3 linked regions of the Homo sapiens genome follow. The protein of the gene in region 1 interacts with the protein of each later gene in a biochemical or structural test. Each region holds a gene or a part of one and is shown in the gene's direction. Other genes may lie near its edges. The genes, in order: RND3, SKP2 and UBXN11.

Region 1 (7,873 bases):
TGACATAAAGTATAATTGGGTGTTTAGTAGATAAAGTAATCAATGGGTCTGATAGTTTTATATTTTTGTTTGTTTTCTTTACTTAGGAAATACTGAAGTATAAACAAATGGCATCAGGCATCAAAGATCTGAAATTTGAAGAGGCAGGTGGAAAGGGTTATTTGTGCCCTATAATACACAGAACCAAAATCATGTGGTCTGGGTTTCTAAAGAATGCAACGGACTATTTGTTAAATTAACTATAAACAGAGAAAGGGATGATCAATTTCAAAATGACTTATTATTCAGTACTCACAAAGTTGTGTCATTTCCTCTTGGCTAAAGAGTGAGGACTAAGTCAATACAGCAGCAGTTAAATCATATTCGCAGTTAGCATTCATGAGAAAAAACAAGGCTGAATGTTTCAACCCAGACTGGAGTGCTCTTACCACACAGCCTAGACAACTTAGTGCAGTGTCCTTGAGAGGGCAAATAGGCATAATTTTAAGAGAAAATAAAGGAAAAGATTCTCTTCCAAGAAAACAGATTCTTCCTAAATAACCAGTTCAATCCATTAAATTGTATGAATGTTCTTTCCTCAATTCCTCACTTCAAAAAAAAATGCCTTCTATTTTGTTGATGTTTTATAAGACTGAGTGATCACCCTCTTCTGACCACCCCAAAAAGAGACAATTGTGAAATTGCCACCTTTCAGTACAGAGCAGTTTACAAGTTTACACGCTTGTCTTTAATTTTGTATTGAAATGCCTATATTTGAAACTATTTAATATCTGTCATCTTATTAAATTCTCAAAGAGAATGCCCATGACTCATATCCATATTTTGTGACATAACATCTATGAAGGCATCCTGCACGTTTTCTTGCTTTGATGTCAGCCATCTCTCTGCTCCATTGATGATGCCTATAAGAAACCTGTGCTTCCTCCTTATTATGCACTTGCTCCTTCAAACACTTCTGCTGGAGTCTGAAGAGAGGCAGGTGACTGTGAATAAACTATTGGGATTATGCCTTACAATATTCCACTGTGGGCCAAGATCTCCATAAATACACTGAACATGAAAAGGGGGGTGCCTTTAGTGTGTTTCTAAAGAATAATTTTGGAAAGTGCAGGGCACGTGATTTTTTAAGCAGTGCTATTGTGCAGCTTAAAGGAGGCAGATGTTATCATCCTCACATAAGGATGAAACTGCGGAAAAGAATTTAGTCAGTGTTCGCCCAAGGACAGATAGTTCATTGGTTTAGCCTGGACTAAAACCCAAGTCCCTGACTTGTAGTCACTCAAATCTCAGAAACAATTGTTTATCAGTCTTGTGCTATCCCTAGATGGGAAGTAGATGGGTACTCTTTCTCAATTGGTTCTCTCTCCAGGCCTGGAATCAGCCCTTTTTGTGTCAAAGGGTATGTAGTTTCTATGGGAGGGGAGATTTCCTCTGGTAAGTAAAGGGTTAGCCACAAAGAAAATAATTTTTGAACTCAAACCTTTTAGGGCACCTGAATGTGTTCTATTAACTAAATCATAGAGAAATATTTACTATTGGTTTTCTGTTCTCTTGGTCTTAAGGATAAATGAGAAAAAGGAGAGAGTAATAGGAAGACAAGCAAGAATCACAAAAGGAAGCACGCTAGGTAATATACGATCCTCCCAGGTAAGGCGTCACATTTTCTAAATGAACGTGTTTCTTAGGGGAAAACCTTTTATTGCAGTCTAAAATTTTAGTCTTTTCCAGGAATTTAGGTATACTTGGATCCCATATTCTCATTGAAGATGAGCAGTTTCATCAAGGTTTCACAGCTAGTGAGTGACAGTGCAGACGAAGAACTGGAGTCATTCATTCATTCATTCATTCATTCATTCATGTAATCATGCTGCTACCCTGTTCCAAGTCCTGCCATGACTGACTTCACATTACCCTGAGAATGAAATCCAAATTCTACAGCCAATTATTCAGCCCCTGCCTGCTTCCTTTTGCTCCCCGACCTACACTCTCCCTCCTTCAGCAGGCCCTAGTCATTCTGGCCTTTCTTCTATTCCTCAAACCTACCAAGCCCTTTCCCTCCAGCCTGTAACCTTTCCACTGTCTGTGAGCATCCTTCTGCTGGACCATGGGTCTGATCCCTACCTTACTATGCTTTAATAATGCCGTGCCATGTTTTCTATGAAGAAAAACATGGGGTGATCTTACTTCTTTATTTACTGTCTATCTCCTGCCTGGAATGTATGCTTTTTGAGAGTAGCAAACAGATCTGTCTTGTTTACTGCTCTATCTGCAGTTCCTAGAACAGTGCCTGGTTTACAGCAGATGCTGAGTAAGTAATTGTTAAACTAAATGTTAGATGAATTTTAAAATATATTAAGTATCCACTTCACACTGAACACTAGAGATTTTAAAAAGGAAAAGGAAGAATGTTTACCCTAGAGGGATTCAAATCCTGGTGACTTCAGGCAGTTGGTTTTTCTACTCTGTTATACATCCATTAAATTTTGCTCAGCAACTGGCAGATTCCTGGAAATTCAGGTCACCTGATTTCCAAAAATAGTCATCCACTATGATTCCAGATGATTCTATGGTGAAGTGATTATGCATCTTGTTTTGCCTGGGATAGACCCTGTTTACCTCTGTTGTCCAGCCACAATCATTGGTAGTGCCCCTTTTGCTCTCAAATCCCAGCTTAGATGATAAATTATGTGGTTACCCTATTCATTGATCAGCCAATTCATAAACATTCTTAATTATTTCTGTTAAAGTGATTTAACCATATAAACTACATCAATTCTGAAATATGGGAGGTCAAATCATATCTCTGGAAAGGGGTAATTTCATTAAGTTAAAAATAAGACAAAAGATAGGATGGACACAGCTCCAATTAGTGAGTCCACCAATGAAGCCAGAATTTCTCAAGACACATTCAACAGTTCTGAAAAGTGCAAATAAGATTTTACATGCAAACTATAACACAGGTCAAGGACTCTTTATTGTGCCAGAAACCATTCTGCAAACGTCACTTGCATTTCCTCATAATTACCATTATGACTCCTATTTTACAGATGATGAAATTGAGGCTCAGAGAGGCTAAATAATCCATCCAAAGTCATACAGAAAATGTGAAGTTGGGGACCCAAATACACCTCTTTGTGATCTCCTGCCCCAACTACTATGCCCATTGCTCTTTAAACAAGTAAACAAACGTGAATAATTTGATTAATGTTTCCTGTGTTAAGTAGTTTTGGGAAATGCTAGGTTAAACTATGTTAAATAGTCTGCTTTTCTCTGGGATTTTTAAATGTTTGTAACATTAGTGTGCTTGGCGAATCTTCAGTGAGTGATGTGGGTACAGTGTCGCCCTCACTAATTGGGCCATGGCACCCTTTGTGTCAGGAGGGAACTAAAGCTCAGAAGAACAAACATTGGCAAAGGCTGCTCTAGGAACCCTAGCAGGGCCAGCAACCCGCTTCTCTGTGGGTCAACCCTCCCCTTGTGTAAACACAGACCCACCGATGGAGTCTGAGTCAATGATCTTTGAGGGGGCTCCAATTTTCTCAGCCCCAAATAGGACATCATTCCTGGATCCCCTAGGCTTCAGGGGCCCTACCAGTCCACTACTTACATCAGTGCTTTTGACAACTCTTCATTGTGCCTTTTCACTTCCCATGTTAAACTTTCTGATTTGTTTGTTTTCACCTTATCTTCTCATTTACAAGCCTAGGAGTCTCCACAGGGGACCATATAAGCTGGTTTTGGCCAGTGTGCTACTACATTGTAACAATTGAAACCTCCTGAGCATTTAGGGTGCAGGAGCTGAAGATGAGAAAAAGAAAGACTTCTCATAGAAAAAGAACAAATGTGCGGGCTATTCTGGTCCTTTCTAAGATTTTTGCTTGCGGGGAAGAGTTGGAGGGCTAGGGAGATGGATGTGGAGGAGGACAGAAGAGAGGGTGGAGGGTTGTATCTGCATTTTTCAGCTAAAGATGTTTGTGCCTTCTGAGTCCAGTCTAGGGTGCTTTGATTCCGGGAAGATGGAGGCTATAGATAAAGAATTAATAGTATCAAAATCTGCCCCCCCACCAGTCCCCTCACTGCAAATGTGGGGAGGTGCAACTAAGCTGACAAGTGTTTGGGTCCCTAGCGCAGTAGGGTTGAGTTTCCAATGGCCTTTGTCACTCAGTCATGGGCATCTTCCACTTCTCTTTCTTCTCCCCTCCCACCTCCTGTACCCACCCCTCGAAACCTTTCTGCCTCCACTTGTACGACTGAAACTGACAGGTTTCAGAAGCCAGTCTACTACCGTGACCCAGGCAAGCCTGTTCTTGCATCTGGAATAAAGAGGCTGATCTATTGGTCCATGGCCTATGTACCTGATACAAACCATTAAAAAAAAAAATAGAACCACTCAACTATTCTCCACCCAAGATTTGCTTCCTATGTTTTATCACTGTCCTTTAACTTGGGTGGGAAATGTTTTTGTTTTCATAAATGCTCATGAGGCTTCTACAGATAAGCCCCTATTAAACTATATTTAAAGGGATTGTAGTTCAAATCAGTATGCACAGATACCAGTTTCCCACCTTGCCCTGTGGACTTGTCAGCAAAGCATCTTTGGGATCTTCATGTTGTCTAAGAGCCTTGGTCTAAAATAGATCCCGAATGGGCACCCTAGAGGGCGCACTGCTTACATTTTCGGCATGCAACGCCAACAGCGCTCGCTCCCAGGCTCCATAAAAGGGGAGGAGGCAGATCAGTTTCCTCCTCTCATTGAGAAAGAAGAGGATTGGAAGGCCGGGCGTATAAAGCCGCGCAGAGAGCGTGAAACAAAGCAGTCGGCTCGGAATTGGACTTGGGAGGCGCGGTGAGGAGTCAGGCTTAAAACTTGTTGGAGGGGAGTAACCAGCCTGCTCCTCTCGCTCTCCTCCTCGTCTGCGCCGCGTTTCAGAGGTTGCCCATCAGCCTTGTGATTTATTTTTATATCTGCTTTTTATAAAGAGAGAAATATATATATATATATATATTTTTTTTTTTCTTCTTAAGAGAAAATTCCTGTTCCAAGAGAAAATAAGGCAACATCAATGAAGGAGAGAAGAGCCAGCCAGAAATTATCCAGCAAATCTATCATGGATCCTAATCAGAACGTGAAATGCAAGATAGTTGTGGTGGGAGACAGTCAGTGTGGAAAAACTGCGCTGCTCCATGTCTTCGCCAAGGACTGCTTCCCCGAGGTGAGTGTGGCCGGCCGCGGCTTCCACGAGGGGGTCGGCCAGTGGGATCCCAGTCCCGAGGTGGGCCTCCCCGCTTTCATCCGTTTTCCCTTAAAAAAAAAAAAAAAGAAAAAAAAAAGTCTTTCTCGGTCCTTACTACTTTCCCCTGATTAGACTGCGGGGAAAGGGAAAGTGCGCTGGAAGCTTTTAGGGTTGGGACGCGCCTGCACATGGGCTGGTTAGCTCCTGAAACTTGTTCGTTCCTGTGTGCATAACCTGGGGTTGGGAGATTCGGGTCAGCAGATCTGTGAGAGCCGGGTGGGGTGAGTGGGGAGTAGGACAGGGGTTTCGGAAAGGGTCCATGTGCTTAGTGTGTGGTCTGATGTGTGAAGGTTTTCTTTCTTAACTGGGGAGCGGGGAGGGGAAGGGTGTTCAATGGGTGTCGTGCGTTTAAACGTAACCTCTTTGCCCTCTTTCCTTCCTCTTTTGCCCATTTTGTCTATCCAGAATTACGTTCCTACAGTGTTTGAGAATTACACGGCCAGTTTTGAAATCGACACACAAAGAATAGAGTTGAGCCTGTGGGACACTTCGGGTAAGAGTGGGAGGACCGCGTGGCGCTTGGGGCGGGTTTCCAGTCGCTGGGGGATGCGCGGCGGGTCTCGGGAAACCGCGCGCTACAAGCCGTCTGCGCCCCTCCCAAGGGATTCCCACGGTCCCTGTTGGGCGAAAATTGTATCCCTTCTGGGTGGGGGCGGCAGACGACAGCGTGGACGAGGAGATAGCAGTGGGGAGAGGAGAGCGCTGTGTGCCCGCAGGGTGACCCCGCGGTTGGAGCCACTAGTGGCCAGGCGCAGTCCGCCCGCGGAGTCGTGGTCAAGTCGCCTTGGGTCGGCCGAGGTGGCCCGATACTGTGGGGTGTTGCATGGGCGCTGCGTGCGCCTCGGCGGAACCACCCGGCTCAAGGCGGGCGCCCCTCCTAGATCTAACCTGCTGGTTGGCGGGGAGGCGGGGAGCGCCGCGGGGGTGATGGGAGGCGGGAGAAAATCCCAGAGGCGACGCGGTTACGTGCAATTGCCGCTGTTGAGGGAAAGAAACTGAGCGCAGGCAGCCGCGGCGCCCGTGACGCCTACACCCAGGAATGCGCTGGTGGCGCAGGGGCCGGGCAGCAGCTGAACCTCCTCTTCGCGCTGCCGGCCGCCCGCGGTGCCTCGGTGCCCACCTGTACCGAGCTTTTCCCTTTTTCCCCCACTCCATCCCAGTGATCACGTCCGTTTCCCCTTCACCACACCAGCCCCTCCTGACCTCTATTGCATCCCCCACTCGGCTTGCCTCCAAGGCCGCGGGCAACACTATTCGCCTTTGACCTTCCAGTCTACTTGAATTATTGGCGCCGCGGTGGGTTATATTCATGGGTCTGAGGTTCAAGGCCGGGTTATTGCTTTCCCATGCGCCCACCCACCTACCTGGCGCGCGGTGGTAGGGAGGGCTAGGTACCCTCCCGGTGGGAAGGCATCCGGCCCCCCGGCTGAGTTAGGGGTTTAGGCCAGGTCAAAGGCCGGGGAGTGGCAGGGGGGCACCATCTGAGGTCTTGGGCTGGGACATAGGCACCCGCCGCCCTAACCAGCGGTGTCTAGCGAGTTTGTTTCCAAGAAGGGTGTCGGCTATGGAAAAGCAGGACCCACTGGGAAGGCTGGGTAAAGGCCCCTGCGCTTAGGGCTGGGAATTTAGCAAGGAGCTGGGTTGCTGGCGGACCGAGCCAAATCCGGGTGAAACTGGCGAGGAGGAACGCGCAAGTGCCAACAAGCAGGTTTGCTGTTAGGCGGGGAGGCCCCGAGGTGGAGCCGCGCCCAGCGGGGAGTGGCCTCGTGGAGGTGTTTCTGTGAGCTTCCCACAGAACCGCTGGGCTTGAACCGCTGGAGCCCCCGAGGGACGCGGGGGTTCAGAGAGCAAGAGGAAGGAACCAGACTGACAGGGTCGCCAGAGGCAGTCCCAGCACAAAGGCAAGCGAGAAGTCTCGCACGAGCGAGCGCCTCTCATGGTCGGTGCCAGATGCTCCGACTGCTGCAGTGAGAAGGGCTGATTTTGTTTCCCCCTGGAGTCAGGCTCTTTCTCAGCCGTTCCAAGGGCAGCAGAATCAGGACTTTGCCGCCGTGTTTTCTGTTGGGGATGGTACACAGACTCGAAACTCTGGAGAAGGTGTTGGTAGACAGAATTCAAGTGGTTCCTTATTTCAGTAGTTCCTATCAGAATTATTTTACAGCCTGGTACTTAATGGGCTCTGATTCCCAGACATATCATGGTATGTATTTGTTATGCCTACTGGATGGCACAGCTGGTGTGGTACCGATAATAAGCACCAGTACTCCCTGCCCCAACCGGCAGCCCTGTTTGGACCTAATGCACGATAAAAATTATTTTGGCACGGGGTGGAGCAGTGTGTCTGAACCAGTCGTTGATACAAAGCTGTGTTTAGATCTTAGCTCCTGGTTACCATGGATTTCTGTGTGCAAATCCCCTATCTCCCTGGGTCTCATTTTCATCATCTGTAAAAAGAGGACACTGAGCTAGATGATGTGCAGGATCTCTCCCAGCTGTACACTTCTTGGCTTTATTACGCTGGACAGGCAGGTCTTTTTGTTTCCCAGGATGTTGGTTGGCTTCAGCTCTTAGTCTTAGGG
Region 2 (7,103 bases), on another chromosome or scaffold:
TGCGCTTCCTGCATCCACCTTTCTGTTCTAAACACAGCAGCCAGAGTGATCCTTTTTGAACTTACGTGAGGGCCTGTCATTCCTGTGCTCAGAATCTTCTAGTGGTGCCTCATAGAATTCAGCGTCAAAGCCAAAGGCTTTATCATGACCTAGGAAGCCTGCATGACCTGGCTGCTCTCTGATTTTTCTACCCACCTACCTCTGCGCTCTACACTGGCCTCCTTGCTATGCCTCAAACACACATGCTGTTCCTTGGATCTAGAACACGTACACCAGATACTCACAGGGCTCACTCCCTCACTTTGTTCAAGCCTTTGCTTAGTGATCGTCATCTCAGTATGGCCTTCCCTGACCACCATGTTCAAACTTAATAACATCTGCTCTGAACTCTCTGTTCTCTCCCTTGCCCTGTTTAATTTTTCTGCACAGCACAGATCAATTTTACTATATCATATAATGTACTTATTTTTTGATGTGTGATTATCTGTTCCGCATTACTGGAATGAAGTCCCACGAAGGTAGTGTTTTGGGTCTGATTTACTACTCCTTCCCAACACCTAAAATGATACCTGGCACCATAGTAGGAGCTCAGTAAATATTTGTTGAATTAAGAAATGACAATACCCTTTTGTATTGCTCTTTTAGGTAAACTGTGCCTTTTGTAAACCTGAAAGAAAGCATATTAGTCTGTTCTCATGTTGTTAATAAAGACATACCCAAGACTGGGTAATTCATAAAGGAAAGAGGTTTAATTGACTCACAGTTCAGCCTGGCTGGGGAGGCCTCAGGAAACGTACAAGCTTGGTGGAAGGGGAAGCAAACGTCCTTCTCCACATGGCGGCATCAAGTGCAGAGCAAAGGGGTCGGGGAAGCCACTTGTAAAACCATAAGATCTTGTGGGAACTCACTTATCACCAGAACAGCATCAAATTACAGGGGCGGTTATCACCAGGTAACCGTCCCCATGATTTGATTACCTCCCACTGGGTCCCTCCCGCAACACATGGGGATTATGGGAACTACAATTCAAGATGAGATTTGGGTGGGGACACAGCCAACCATAGCAGAAAGGGAAGAAGATTTATTTGCCTTTTAAATAAGGTCACTACTGAGTCCACATCAGAGAGAAACAAGGCCTTCCTTTGCACCCAGAAGCACCACAATATCTTATTGATGTCAATGAATTGACAATGTCATTGAATGACATTTGAGAGGGTGGGACTTGCTCTGTACCACTCTTCATGCCACAGCCTCCGATTGGCTGGCTAGAGCTGAAGGGAAGAATAGGAAAAGTGTTCTGGGTTTCTCTTTTTGATTTGCTGAGAGAGTGTGGTGGTCACTTCAGGGTACATAGATGATGGAATGGGGAATTTAACACGAATTAAATTACTCATCACCACAATTATTTTTCTGTTCAACAGAAATGATTTTTCAAACAAAAATAATTGTGAGGATGAGTAATTTAATTTGTGCTAAATTCCTCATTTAAGCTAAATGTTGTATATTCTTTATGTGTTTGAAAAGACTCAGTAGACTTGATAGGGTGAAAGAATGGTGATGGCAAACACTTGTTTTCCCTCCAAAGGTGTTTCATGGGACTCCCTTCCGGATGAGCTGCTCTTGGGAATCTTTTCCTGTCTGTGCCTCCCTGAGCTGCTAAAGGTCTCTGGTGTTTGTAAGAGGTGGTATCGCCTAGCGTAAGTATTTTTCACCCCTTTGGCAAACGTAGGGGAGGAAGAGGAGAGGAAGGTTATTTATTCGTTTTGGTCTGATGAAACTAAAAACCAAGAAAAATAGAGCAGCGCAAAGCAAACTAGGTATCTTCATATTTTTATTAATCAGTGTCCTCATTTCACAGTGGAAGAGGAATTTCCTGGGAGGGATAAACTTACCAATGTCTGGAAACCTCTTTGCCCTGTATTCAGTGCAGCATGTGTTTATGGGATGCTGACTGTAGGCCAGGCGGTGTGCTTTAAGTGCGGAGAGAGTTACAGAGGTGCATGCAGACAGCGGTTCCTCACGCCGCTGGGCTGAGCAGTGAGCACAATAGGGAGAGGGAACACAGGCTTGGTGTTAGACCCGAGTGCACACCCAGCCTCTGCTGCTTACGCTCTGCATGACCTGAGTGAGTTAGTTGACACTGCTGAGCCTCAGTCTCCCCATATGTAAATGGGGATAATGGTTATGAGGAGGAAACCACTGGTTATGAGGATGAAATGTGAAGATGCTGGTGTAATGCCTGACTCACAGACATGTTCCACACAGAGTAGCCATTGGTGGGGTTGTGCTCTTTTTTTGGCAACACTTTTCAAGTGTGGAAGGTGAGTTGCATGTGGAAAGACTTGGTGAGCTGGAAAGGCAATAACAGGCCTGGAGCAAGAAAAAGGCTATGTTTATCAACTGGAACTTTTTACTATCTTCATGCCTTCTCATCCCTATCCTACCTCCTGGTCATTCTTTGCTTTGTGTTTAAAGGCCATCCGTCTGGCTTCTCCCTCCACATACTTAGAACTCCCTGTGTGAGATAGCAGGAGCCTCTTGCCTTCAAGGGCGTGCTGCTATTTACAGGTGTGGGTTGTTTGCTTAGAAGAGCCGCAGAGAGGGTTGCACACCTGGAATGCTGGTGCAAGTGGCAGGCAAGTTTCACTTACCCTCACCGCACTCAACCCCACTTTGGTTTTCTTTTTCTGCCAGCTATGCATTTATCCTCTTCTTGCAGAGTCTGTTAATCCCATTTTAAAATTTTATTGTATATATTTAAGGTATACAGCATGATATTTTGTTATAAGTATGTGAAATGGCTGCTATCATTAACATATTCATTATCTCACATAGTTACCTATTTTTTGTGGCAAAAGCACCTAAAATTTACTCTTTTAGCAAACATTCTGACTACAATACAGTATTATCGACTCTAGTTCTCCTGTTGTATACTATATCTTGGGATGTGTTCATCCTGCATATCTGTGGCTTTGTATTCTTTGACCTACATCTCCCTTAGAGTCTGTTAAACTTCATCTCAGTTGTCATAAAAGTAATTACTGACATTTATTAAGCACTTGCTTTGTGACAGGTGCAGTGTTTGCAATTTAATCCTCCATATGATTTTAAGTGATGGTGTTTGTGTCATCTCAGCTTCAGAGGTGAGGAAACTGCAGGGTCAGGAATAGTAGGTTGAGAGATAAGTGGAAAGGCAGGAATCTAAAGTTTGGCTAACTCCACGGTCTTAACCATCATACCATATCTAGTTATGCTTGGCTTAGGGTTCAGGTAGCTCCCAAATTCATTTTTCTGTGAGGTGTTCATCTTCCTAAAAAATGTATATTATTTGGAAAGAAAATGAATTGTTCCAAAACTTCTCCCAGGTTGTTGTTATTGAATGCTGGTTAAGCTATAGTTTGCCTTCTTGCAAGAGGAAACATCAAGCATGAGATTCAAGACAACCAGAGCAGTGCTGATCTGGTGTCAATACCAATACCTTGGAGGCCAAAATGGATTTCTGTCTGGGCAAGAAAGATACAAAAGTGTGCCACTCTCTTAAGGATATCTTATCTACAGTCCACCTTTTTAATGATAGATTTGTCACACAAATCACACTGACAATTTTTTTATGATGAAGTTATTTCATAACTCTGGCCAGTGGTCCACTTATTTCAAGCACTATTAAAAAAGAAAATTCTAGTACACCTAAGCATTTAAAATGTTCCTTCATGTGCTTATATTTCACATTTTCTTTTTTTAAATTGAATTAAACTATGGATATTAAAACCCTCTTACTGTGCTATTCAGTACGTTTTTAGAACATCCCTTTTGTTTTAGAAACACCATCTATAATCCGTTGTATTTTTCCCTTATTTCACATTAGTTCATACACACACATATGTACACATACATATACACGTGTATGTTTTAAGCTTCAAATATATTATAAGGCACAGCTGAACCATGACTGTTGCTATTGAATATCTATGACAGCCTTATTTCATAATAAAATAATGCTAACTTTCGTTCCTTTAGTAATTTTCCATGTTGCTACAGTAATCATAATTGCTTGACAAAAGTGTCAAATAGATTTAAAACTTCTTAGAGGATCCTATTTGCCTAGTAATATAATAATTAATTGATTTGAGCAATCATTTTTTAAATTTGTCAACTTGAATGCTGGAATATGATTCTCTGGTTCTAGATCACGGCAGTGCTAATGTTCACATTGAACCATCTAAATTGGAAGTATATAGAAAGAGAAAGATGGAAGCTTATCCCTGGTGAAATCAAGAAAAATTCTCTAGTGCCTTAAAAATATCATAGCTAATTGTATAGCCAACTTAAAAACAAAAGTTCTTTTAGAATATGCTTCAAGGAGATTTAGCAGCAGTGTCCTACCTGTTAGTAATGTTGTTGAGGGCTTCCAGCATTTAGTGTGACCGACTGGCCAAATTAAGTATCTCCTCTTTTATAGGTCTGATGAGTCTCTATGGCAGACCTTAGACCTCACAGGTAAAAATCTGCACCCGGATGTGACTGGTCGGTTGCTGTCTCAAGGGGTGATTGCCTTCCGCTGCCCACGATCATTTATGGACCAACCATTGGCTGAACATTTCAGGTAAAGATGAAAAATCCCTGGAAAAGACTATTTCTAAATTTCGAGGTAGAAACAGATCAAAGCTTTTTTTTTTTTTTTCTTTCTTCAGCCTTAAAGCCTATGGTAGGTTATCTGTGCAGTGTGGGATGTTAATTCCATACTTTGCTATGGGGCCTTTGTGCTAAAACCTAGCATAGATTTCAATGACACTGTTCCCATTTCACTCAAGTTTACTGTTAGTCTCTTCCCAGGGTGAAAGAGGCACATTTGTCTTCTCAAGTCCTCAGCTGATAGGGGGACTGTGAGTCCCACAAGGCAGGCACAAGTAAAGCACTCACTGGCAGATGCAAGGGTGCCCAGTTACTTCCCCAATGCCCATTTCTGATAAATAAAAAAAAGTGAGGAGTCTTTTCATGTTTGTAGCTTGGGGTTTATGATTTTTGTCTTGGAGAAATTTGGAACCTGAAAAAAATGCCCTCTTTTTGTTTGTTTTGTAGAATATTTTGAAAAAGAATTTTCTGTTCTGATAATTTTGCAATACTGAGGTTACTGCTATCACATAGTAGAATAACTAGGTACTGAACAGAAAAACAAGCTGAAGACAACAAAGCTAAAGATAAAACATGTCTCCTGACTCCAGTACTTTTTCCCTTCTTTCCGTAGTCAGGACCGCCTCTCCCACTGCTTTTTATCCTGTTCCTCCTGTGGCTGTTCCTTCTCAGTCTCCTTCACATATGTGATTTCCTCTGTTCACTCCAGGGTCGGTTCCTGGCTGCCACCTTTTTCAAATCCAAATGCTGTCCCTGGACAAGCTGTGTCCTCTACACCCACATTTATGCCCAGGACTCTCAGTTCCTCATCTATAGCTTGGCCCTCCCTTTCAAATTCCCAAATTTCTAATTACCTAAAAACGTCTGTACCTGAATTTCTTACAAGGACTTCAATATTAGCATAACTCAAATTTGGCCTCCCTTTTTTTTTATTGTTTTTGTTTTTTGAGACGGAGTCTTGCTGTGTCACCCAGGCTGGAGTGCAGTGGCGTGATCTCGGCTCATTGCAACCTCTGCCTGCCAGGTTCAAGCAATTCTGCCTCAGCCTCTCGAGCACCTGGGGACTACAGGTGTGCGCCACCACGCCCAACTAATTTTTTGTATTTTTAGTAGAGACTGGGTTTCACCATGCTGGCCAGGCTGGTCTTGATATCCTGACATCGTGATCCACTGGACTCAGCCTTTCAAAGTGTTGTGATTACAGGCGTGAGCCACTGCGCCCAGCCTGGTCTCCCTTTAAAACTTTCTCTTCCGCTACCTTCCCTGTTCTATTGCTGCTCACCCACTCACCCCTGCCAGAAACCAGGAGCCGTTATGGTCTTAATCTCCTTGTCACCCACATCCAGCTCATTGTTGTGATGCCCACTCGTTATTTTCTAAGTGGGACTATATTGGCAGCAACATCTGTACTTGGCAAAAATCCTCTTGCATTTTAAAATGAATGAAGATGGGAATACACTAGTAGCAATATGTTTTATGACCCTATAGTTAATGCTTGAAGTATGTATTTAGAGTCTTGTTTGTGATTGGCTGCTCATTTGGGGAGAAGAGGGGTCTGGTTTGAAATTGGATGTACCCGTGAGAGCCACCTATGGAGCTCCTTTTTTCTCTCCGTGTTTAGCCCTTTTCGTGTACAGCACATGGACCTATCGAACTCAGTTATAGAAGTGTCCACCCTCCACGGCATACTGTCTCAGTGTTCCAAGTTGCAGAATCTAAGCCTGGAAGGCCTGCGGCTTTCGGATCCCATTGTCAAGTGAGTGGCAGGCAGAGTGTCACAAAGGCAGTTGATTTTATGTGTATGAATTTTTTTCCCTGTATATAACTGGGGTGCCCTTCTAGCCATATCCAGGTGGATACAGAAAATATCTAGTGCAGTGCTCTAGCTTCTGCAAAACTTTTCAGGACTCATTGAAGCAACAAAAGCTTGAATGCTAACTATATGCCAGGCCCTGTGCTAGGTTCTAGAGATACAAGTACAAGGATGAACAATGCATGTGTATTATTTGGGAAGAAAATGAATGCTCTAAAACTTTTCCCACCTTGTTAGTGAATGCTGGTTAAGCTATAGTTTACCTTCTTGCAAGAGGAAACATTGAGCAAGACATGTCTATTTTCTCTTGCAAGAAGGTAAACTATTTATGAGCAAGACAGATAATTACCATGCAGTGTGTTTATTAAATGTTTCAGTGAATATGTGGCAACACACGAGGAGCCGCCTTGTTAGAGGAAGTGACTCTTGAGTATTGAAGATATCTAGGTAGGAGATCTCTAGGTAATAAGACAAAGCAACCAGTCTAGGTAAAACTTCCTGTGTGGTTCTAAACTCTTACGTAGTTGGAAGTTGCTGGAGCACAGGACTAAGGGAGGAGAGTGACAAGGTGAGGAGAGTCAGGGACCAGATTGTAATGGGCCCCTACGCCTTGCTGTAAGAAGAATGGACTGGACTCTTCCATTAAGAGGGAAGCATG
Region 3 (7,698 bases), on another chromosome or scaffold:
CTAAAAAATACAAAAACATTAGCTGGGCATGGTGGTGGGCACCTGTAATCGCAGCTACTCGGGAGGCTGAGGCAGAGAATCGCTTGAACCTGGGAGCTGGAGTTTGCAGTGAGCTGAGATCACGTCACTGCACTCCAGCCTGGAAAACAGAGTGAGATTCTGTCTCAAAAAAAAAAAAAAAAAGAATAGAGACTTCCAGAACCATCTAGCCCCAGAGCTGGGGTCTACTTCCTCACCCTGCAGGTGGGAAACAGGTCCAGAAAGAGCCTTGTTCAAGACCTCCCTCCTCCCAGGCCAGGGCCTTTGCACCATCATCAGACTGAATATCCACCACTGGATGCGATCAAGATGAGGCTGGGCGACCCCATCTCAGAAGTCCAGAGGGAATCCTTCCAGCTTGGAAGTGGTCGGATGGGTCTCCAAGGCCCTCACAACACTCAAGTCTTGTGAGCCTGGAGACCTCAGAGATTTCCAGACCTTCTAAGATGTGGGAAGAGAAATATAGGTTAAAAAAAAAAAATCAGATGAGCTTAGACTCTTGGTTTCTTTTATAATTTTGTTTTTGAAAAAACACCTTTTTTTTTTTTTTTTTTTTTAAGACAGAGTCTGGCACTGTCGCCCAGGCTGGAGTGCAGTGGCGCAATCTTGGCTCACTGCAACCTCAGCCTCCCAGGTTCAAGCAATTCTCCTGCCTTAGCCTCCCGAGTAGCTGGGATTACAGGCGACCGCCACCATGCCCTGCTAATTTTTGTATTTCTTTCTTTTCTTTCTTTCTTTTTTTTTTTGAGATGGAGTCTTGCTCTTGTTGCCCAGGCTGGAGTGCAGTGATGCGACCTTGGCTCACTGTAACCTCCGACTGCTGGGTTCAAGTGATTCTCCTGCTTTAGCCTCCAAAGTAGCTGGGATTATAGGCGCATGCCACCACACCTGGCTGATTTTTGTATTTTTAGTAGAGATGGGGTTTCACCATGTTGGCCAGGCTGGTCTCAAACTCCTGACCTTAGGTGATCCACCCACCTCAGCCTCCCAAAGTGCTGGGATTACAGGCATGAGCCACTGCTCCTGGCCTAGTTTTTGTATTTTTTAGTAGAGACAGGGTTTCGTCATGTTGGCCAGGCTGGTCTCGAACTCCTGATCTCAGGTGATTCACCCACCTCGGCCTCCCAAAATGTTGGGATTACAGGTGTGAACCACTGTGCCCAGCCAAAAACTCCTCCTTTTTGGGCCGGGCACAGTGGCAAGAGGGTATAGTCTCTGCTACTTGGTAGGCTGAGAGGCCGAGACTGGAGGATCCCTTGAGCTCAGGAGTTCAAATCCAACCTGGGCAACATAGACAGAGTCTGTCTCTAAAAATAAATAAATGAGCAAAGAAAGAAAAGAAGAACACCTTTTCAGGAGCAATAATGCAACAACATTATAGGAATTTTTAAAATAGTGTATATATTTTTTTCAGCTGTTGTCCCCACTCATGCTGGGGCCGGTGCCTCATTATGGAAAATTTAATTTGTACAATAATCCTAGGAGGTAGATTCTATTAGTATCTCTACTTTACATTTGTAGACACTGAGACTCTGACAAGTGAAGTATCTTGAGCAGGAACAGCCAGCTATTAAACGACAGAGCCCAGCCTCATAGAGTTGTTAAGTTATGCTGGTCCACAGTACAATGTATCCCCAACAAATGATGGCTCTTATTATTTTCCAAGTTTCTCCAGTGAAATTGTATATTTTTATAATAAGGCTCTGACTTTCCCAATAAATGTTATTTTTTTAAAAAAAATCAAACCAGAAGGGCACGGTGGCTCACACCTGTAATCCCAGCACTTTGGGAGGCTGAGGCGGGTAGATCATGAGGTCAGGAGATAGAGACCATCCTGGCCAGCATGGTGAAACCCCATCTCTACTAAAAATACAAAAATTAGCTGGGGGTGGTGGCACTTGCCTGTAATCCCAGCTACTCAGAGGCTGAGGCAGGAGAATTGCTCGAACCAGAGAGTTGGAGATTGCAGTGAGCTGAGATCACACCACTGCACTCCAGCCTGGCGACAGAGTGAGACTCTGTCTCAAAAAAAAAAAAAATCAATTGACTCGGGACAGGGCGCAGTGGCTCACGCCTGTAATCCCAGCACTTTGGGAGGCTGAGGTGGGCGGATCACAAGGTCAGGAGACGGAGACCACACTGGCCAACATCGTGAAACCCCGTCTCTACTAAAAATACAAAAAAATTAGCTGGGCATGGTGGCGTGTGCCTGTAGTCCCAGCTACTTGGGAGGCTGAGGCTGGAGAATCGCTTGAATCTGGGAGGTGGAGGTTGTGGCGAGCCACGATCGTGCCACTGCACTCCAGCCTGGTGACAGAGCAAGACTCAAAAAAAAAAAAAAAAAAAAAATCAAACGACTGGCCTGCCAGGTTAGAGGGCTCCCATTTTCCTCCCAGGAAATAGATGTTTACTGAGTGTCTGCCTGCTGCGGAATCTACAGCCAGGCCCTGGGTGGGAAGAAGGGATGGGGTAAATCCTGGTGCCTGGGTAAATGCCACTCACGATCTGGTTCTTGCTGAGGCAGGAATCAGAGGGCAGACCACAGCAGGGCTCATGAGACCAGAGCTCCTGCTTCCCACGCTTGCTTATCTCCATGAGCAAGGTGACAGTATGAAGTTGCTACTCACCCTGACCATGGGTCCAACCTCAAAAAACACTTGGCCCCGACATGATCTCAGTCTTTCTCATCTTCATATACCTAAAACCTCAGAAAACTTTCTGGGAGCAGCTCAGCAACAAGAGAGCTCTTCCTATGTCCACTCTCCAGTCACACTTTCCGCCCAGACTCCTCCCTTGGCAGTAGGTCTGTACCACCTTCTTCCTTGGCTTATCTATGCCTGCCTTGTTTACCAGAGTGAAAGTTTCTAGGAAGAGCGTGGACTCTTGAGGCTGACCGTTCTGGGTTTGAATCCACTTCTGCTTCCTGCCTTTATAATCTTATGCAAGCCGCTGTACTACCCTGAGCTTGTTTTCTCATCTGTTTTTTTCTTTTTTCTTTTCTTTTCTTTTTTTTTTTTTTGACAGAGTTTCACTCTTGTTGCCCAGGCTGGAGTGCAATGGTGCGATCTCAGCTCACCGCAACCTCCGCCTCCCAGGTTCAAGCGATTCTCCTGCCTCAGCCTTCCTGAGTAGCTGGGATTACAGGCATGCGCCATCATGCCCGGCTGATTTTGTATTTTTAGTAGAGACGGGGTTTCTCCATGTTGGTCAGGCTGGTCTCGAACTCCCGACTTCAGATGATCCGCCTGCCTCAGCCTCCCAAAATGCTGGGATTACAGGCGTGAACCACCACGCCCGGCCCTCATCTGTAAATTTCATGTTACCATCTGGTACTTGGCACTCAGTAGTAGTAGCTCTCTTTAGCTTCCAATTTGCATATAAAGAATGCTGTCCACTTTGGGAGGCAGAGATGGGCGGATGGCTTGAGCTCAGGAGTTTGAGACCAGGCTGGGCAACATGGCAAGACCCCGTCTCTACAAGAAAATACAAAAACTAGCTGGGCGTTGTTGTGCACACCTGTAGTCCCAGCTACACTGGTGGCTGTGATGGGAGGATAGCTTGAGCCTGGGAGGCGGATGTTGCAGTGAGCAGAGCCTACCCTTCCCTGAATGTGGTAGGCTAGAAAGTCAAACGGAAAATTAAAAAAAAAAAAAAAAAAAAGCAACAGAAAAACACTCTTGGGTTGTGCAGAGAAAGGGCTTTTGAACCTGGGCACAAAGAAGTGAGTGCCTGAGATCAGAAATCATAAACTCCCAGACCATCACAGCTGAAAGGGTGAAGAGATGATGATGATGATTAACAGCAGGAAACGTTTTTGAAAAAGTGCTCTCTACAGGTGTTTCTGTTTCGGCTTTCCCCTTTAAAATCGTGTACTTTGCATTACCTTATTTAATCCTCACGGCAACCCAGTGGGGGTAGGTATTATCACTGTTTTACAGATATAAAAACTAAGGTGTATAAAGTGCCCAAGAACACACAGTAAGGAGCCAGGACTCCTAATTCCAAAGTTCGTGGTCTTAACTGCCTTTAGCTGTTTTGGTGACTGAGTCTAATCCAACACAATTTTACAGATGAGGCTCTGGGAGGGGAAATTGTCTTACCCAACTCTTAACACAAGGGAACTAGAATTTGGGCCGCCCTTCCGGGCGCCAATCTGGTCAAGGATTTGTCACAGAAACTCAGATTTAGGAAACATTTATTAAGTACTTGCATCATTGCAATCCATCCTCAAAGCAGCCTCCGTGAAGTATTACAGTACTTCGTGTTACAATACTGATCATATGGGGAAATAAGCTAAGAGGGATAATTCCTCCCAAGATCAATTTAGCAAAATAGCGGCACTGTCGGGATCACACATTCAGGTCCTGAATGTGAGGCTGCCAGCAGTTTCATTAACCTAATCCCAGGCTCCTTCCTCCCGCACCTGAGGGTAGGAACGAACCACCCCCCCCCCCCACCCCGCCCCGGACCTGGAGCCCTCTCAGAGCGGTGCATTCTGGGATTCGCCCGCGAAGAATACCGACTCTGTGGGCCAATAGAATCCGAGCACAGGCGACTGTATCCACCTTCGCTGTCTGCAGGTTGCTCAGGCCTCCCTCAAACTAGCCAATGAGAAGTGCACGGGTCCTGGTCGCCTAGGAAACCGCGTGACAACAAGATGGCGGCGCTGCGGGACGGCTAGCGGCCCTGCGTGGTGAGTCTGGCTTAAGACCTTTCTGCCCCTGGAGTCCCCACGCAGGCTGGAGCCCGAGCCCCGAGGGCCTGCGAGCTCCGCGGCTCCCACAGGAGAGGTTCAAGACCCTGCTTACCATGACTACGCGTGGAGGCGGAAGGAGGCGACACGGCCTCCAGGGCTGGGTTAGATCGTGATAGACGTCGCTCCCTGAGCGCGTCCTGGGGGCATTAGGGAGTCCTGGCAGCGGGCCGGACCGTGTCCCCGCCAGAGCTCTGGGCTCTGGGGATGACGGAGAGGCCGAGGAGGTGTGAAGAAGAATGTTGTGAGTCAAGCACAGCACTGAGTTTGGTTCCAAAGATGTAGAGGCATGGTGCAGAGATTTGCTCTCAGAGCCAGGTCTGAAGTGGGTGACAACTCTGCCTTAAGGACCTTTTGGCCTGAGGGGTAGTCACAGTCCTGCCCTTGGAAGCCCCAAAGTGAAGGAGTTAGGCGACTGTCCTCAGGGCTCCCTAATCTGAAGGAGAAAGAGATATGCCCCTGCCCTCAGGAGTCCCCCCAAACGGACAGGGAAATGCAGCCTTTGCCTTCAGGGGCCCTTGTAATCTGGGAGAAGATTAACCTGGAGACAATGTGTCGGACTGGACTGGAGTGACACTGGAAGTAGGGAAGTCAGTTGGGAGCCATGTGACAGCCCCCAGAATGGGCAGTGAGAGTCCCACTAGGACGGCCGACGGTGGCCATGGAAAGGGGCAGCTATATGTGAGAGAGTTTAGCCTGCAGGGTTTGATGTAAGAGGCAAGATGGCGTAAGAGGGAAGGAAGGAGAGAAAAAATGTGGTTGGGTGATGGGGTCCCATTAAGAAGGGGGAAGTGGGAGGAAGTGAGTTTGACGAAAATGTTGGATTTGGTTTAGGAGTTTTGTTTTTTTTTCCCATGACAGCTTTATTGAGATATAATTCACGTATTACATACTTCACTCCTTTAAAGTGTAAATTTCAATTTTTAGTATATTTTAGTATATATTCCATTTATATGAAATGTGCAGTGTGGGCAAGTCTATAGAACAGAAAGTAGATTTGTGGTTGCCTAAGGCTGCCTTGGAAAAGGGGTGGGGGCTGGAGGGTAAATTGGGGGTGACTGCCAAAGGGTACAGGGTTTGTTTAGGCTGACGAAAATGTTCTAAAATTGTGATGGTAGTACAGCTCTGTGAATATACTAAAAAGAAAATTACACTGTAAGAAGGTGAAATATGTGAATTATATCTCAAAGCTGTTTTATGAAAAAGGTTGCATACTGTATAATTCCATTTGTGTAACTTTTTTGAAGTAAGAAAATTATAGAGATGGGCCAGGTGGGGTGGCTCACGCCGGTAATCCTAGCACTTTGGGAGGCTGAGGCAGGAGAATTGCTTGAACCTGGGAGGCGGAGGTTGCAGTGAGCCGAGATTGCGCCATTGCTCTCCAGCCTGGGCGACAGAGCGAGACTCCATCTCAAAAAACAAAACAAAAAAAGTATTGAGGGGAGCTGGGTGAAGGATACAAAGGATCTTTCTGTACTATTTTCCTAATTTCCTGTGAATCTATAATAATTTTCAAATAAAAAGCTAAAATATAAGTGAAAAACAAACTGAAGGGGAAAAAAAAGAGTTAGCTGGCCAAGGGAAGGGTGCAGGTAGGAGTGGGGAGACCGTTCTGGGAGTGGGGGGATTGAGGTTGAGGCAGGGGGGATACACATGCATTTGAGGCATTGCTAGAAGTTGAGGTGGCTCAAGTGTGGGAGGCGGCAAGATGGGAGATGAGGTCAGGAGACATAAGCAGGGACCAGGTCACCTATATCAAGGAATTATGAATTTTTTTTTGAGATGGAGTCTTGCTCTGTCACCCAGGCTGGAGTGCAATGGCGCAATCTCTGCTCACTGCAACCTCCGCCTCCTGGGTTCAAGCAATTCTTCTGCCTCGGCCTCCCAAGTAGCTGGGATTACAGGTGCCTGCCACCAAGCCCGGCTAATTTTTGTATTTTTAGTAGAGATGGGGTTTTGCCACGTTGGTCAGGCTGGTCTTGAACTCCTGACCTTAGGTGATCCACCCTCCTCGGCCTCCCAAAGTGTTGGGATTATAGGTGTAAGCCACCGTGCCTGGCCAGAATTTTGAATTTTTTTCTGTGGGTGAGAAGTGCTGGGATTATAGGCATGAGCCACCGCTCCCGGCCTGCTTTATGTTTTAAGATCTCTCTGGTAGCACATGGGAACTAATGAAGGGAGCCTTGGCCATACAACCCGTGAGGCTGCCCAGACAGGGCAGGGGCTGGGGCAGGGTGGGGACAGATTTGGGAGGCTGGATGCTGGGGGTGAAGAAACTCTGGGCCTGATCCTTGAGGAGGGCTCCTTCCAAGGAAGGGGCAGGGCATGATTCTCAAACTCTGCAGTGAAGGCATTGGAGGCTGCCTCCAGGCAGCATAGATTCCCTTGCTGACTGACTTCAGAAGTAGGGTTGAGGCCAGAACCAGACATCTTCAAAGTGGAACTTCTTGGATTTGTCCTAAAAAATTTGGTCCAGGCTGGGTGCAGTGGCTCATGCCTGTAATCCCAGCACTTTGGGAGGTCGAGGGGGGCGGATCACCTGAGGTCATTTACTGAATAGAGTAGTAGCCTTCGATTATGTCCTTCAGGTGCACTCCTTTTTCCAGAAGGAAGAGGAAAGGAAAGGAAACTAACATTTACGAGTGCTTCCTATGTGGCAGCAACAGCAAAAACAACAGCAGCCCCAACTCACATTTTTCAGTGCTTCCTTTGAGCTTGGCGCTGGGCTAGACCTTCTCTGTTATCTCTGAATCTGCTCAGAACCCTGCCTGTGCCAGTACTATTACGACCCCCATTTTATACTAAAAGAAACTGAGGGTGGGTTACTCCAGTGAGTGGCAAAACCTGGCATCTTAACCTTGGTGTCACATGGACTGTGTCTTTTTTTTTTTTTTTTTTTTTGAGAT

Evidence for each region.
Region 2: the proteins of RND3 (region 1) and SKP2 form a complex in vitro, tested with the Homo sapiens proteins (one study listed by BioGRID).
Region 3: the proteins of RND3 (region 1) and UBXN11 form a complex in vitro, tested with the Homo sapiens proteins (one study listed by BioGRID).

What each region holds. Positions count from the first base shown.
Region 1 is NC_000002.12:150,484,608-150,492,480, reverse strand, and holds the start of RND3 (rho-related GTP-binding protein RhoE precursor), read left to right. Parts: upstream 1-4,813; 5' UTR 4,814-4,932; exon of another isoform or gene 4,933-5,025; 5' UTR 5,026-5,063; coding exon 5,064-5,213; intron 5,214-5,699; coding exon 5,700-5,787; intron 5,788-7,873. UniProt on the Homo sapiens protein: Binds GTP but lacks intrinsic GTPase activity and is resistant to Rho-specific GTPase-activating proteins.
Region 2 is NC_000005.10:36,162,060-36,169,162, forward strand, and holds part of SKP2 (S-phase kinase-associated protein 2), read left to right. Parts: intron 1-1,585; coding exon 1,586-1,697; intron 1,698-4,459; coding exon 4,460-4,603; intron 4,604-6,253; coding exon 6,254-6,388; intron 6,389-7,103. UniProt on the Homo sapiens protein: Substrate recognition component of a SCF (SKP1-CUL1-F-box protein) E3 ubiquitin-protein ligase complex which mediates the ubiquitination and subsequent proteasomal degradation of target proteins involved in cell cycle progression, signal transduction and transcription.
Region 3 is NC_000001.11:26,303,626-26,311,323, reverse strand, and holds the start of UBXN11 (UBX domain-containing protein 11), read left to right. Parts: upstream 1-4,687; 5' UTR 4,688-4,732; intron 4,733-7,698. UniProt on the Homo sapiens protein: May be involved in the reorganization of actin cytoskeleton mediated by RND1, RND2 and RND3. Promotes RHOA activation mediated by GNA12 and GNA13.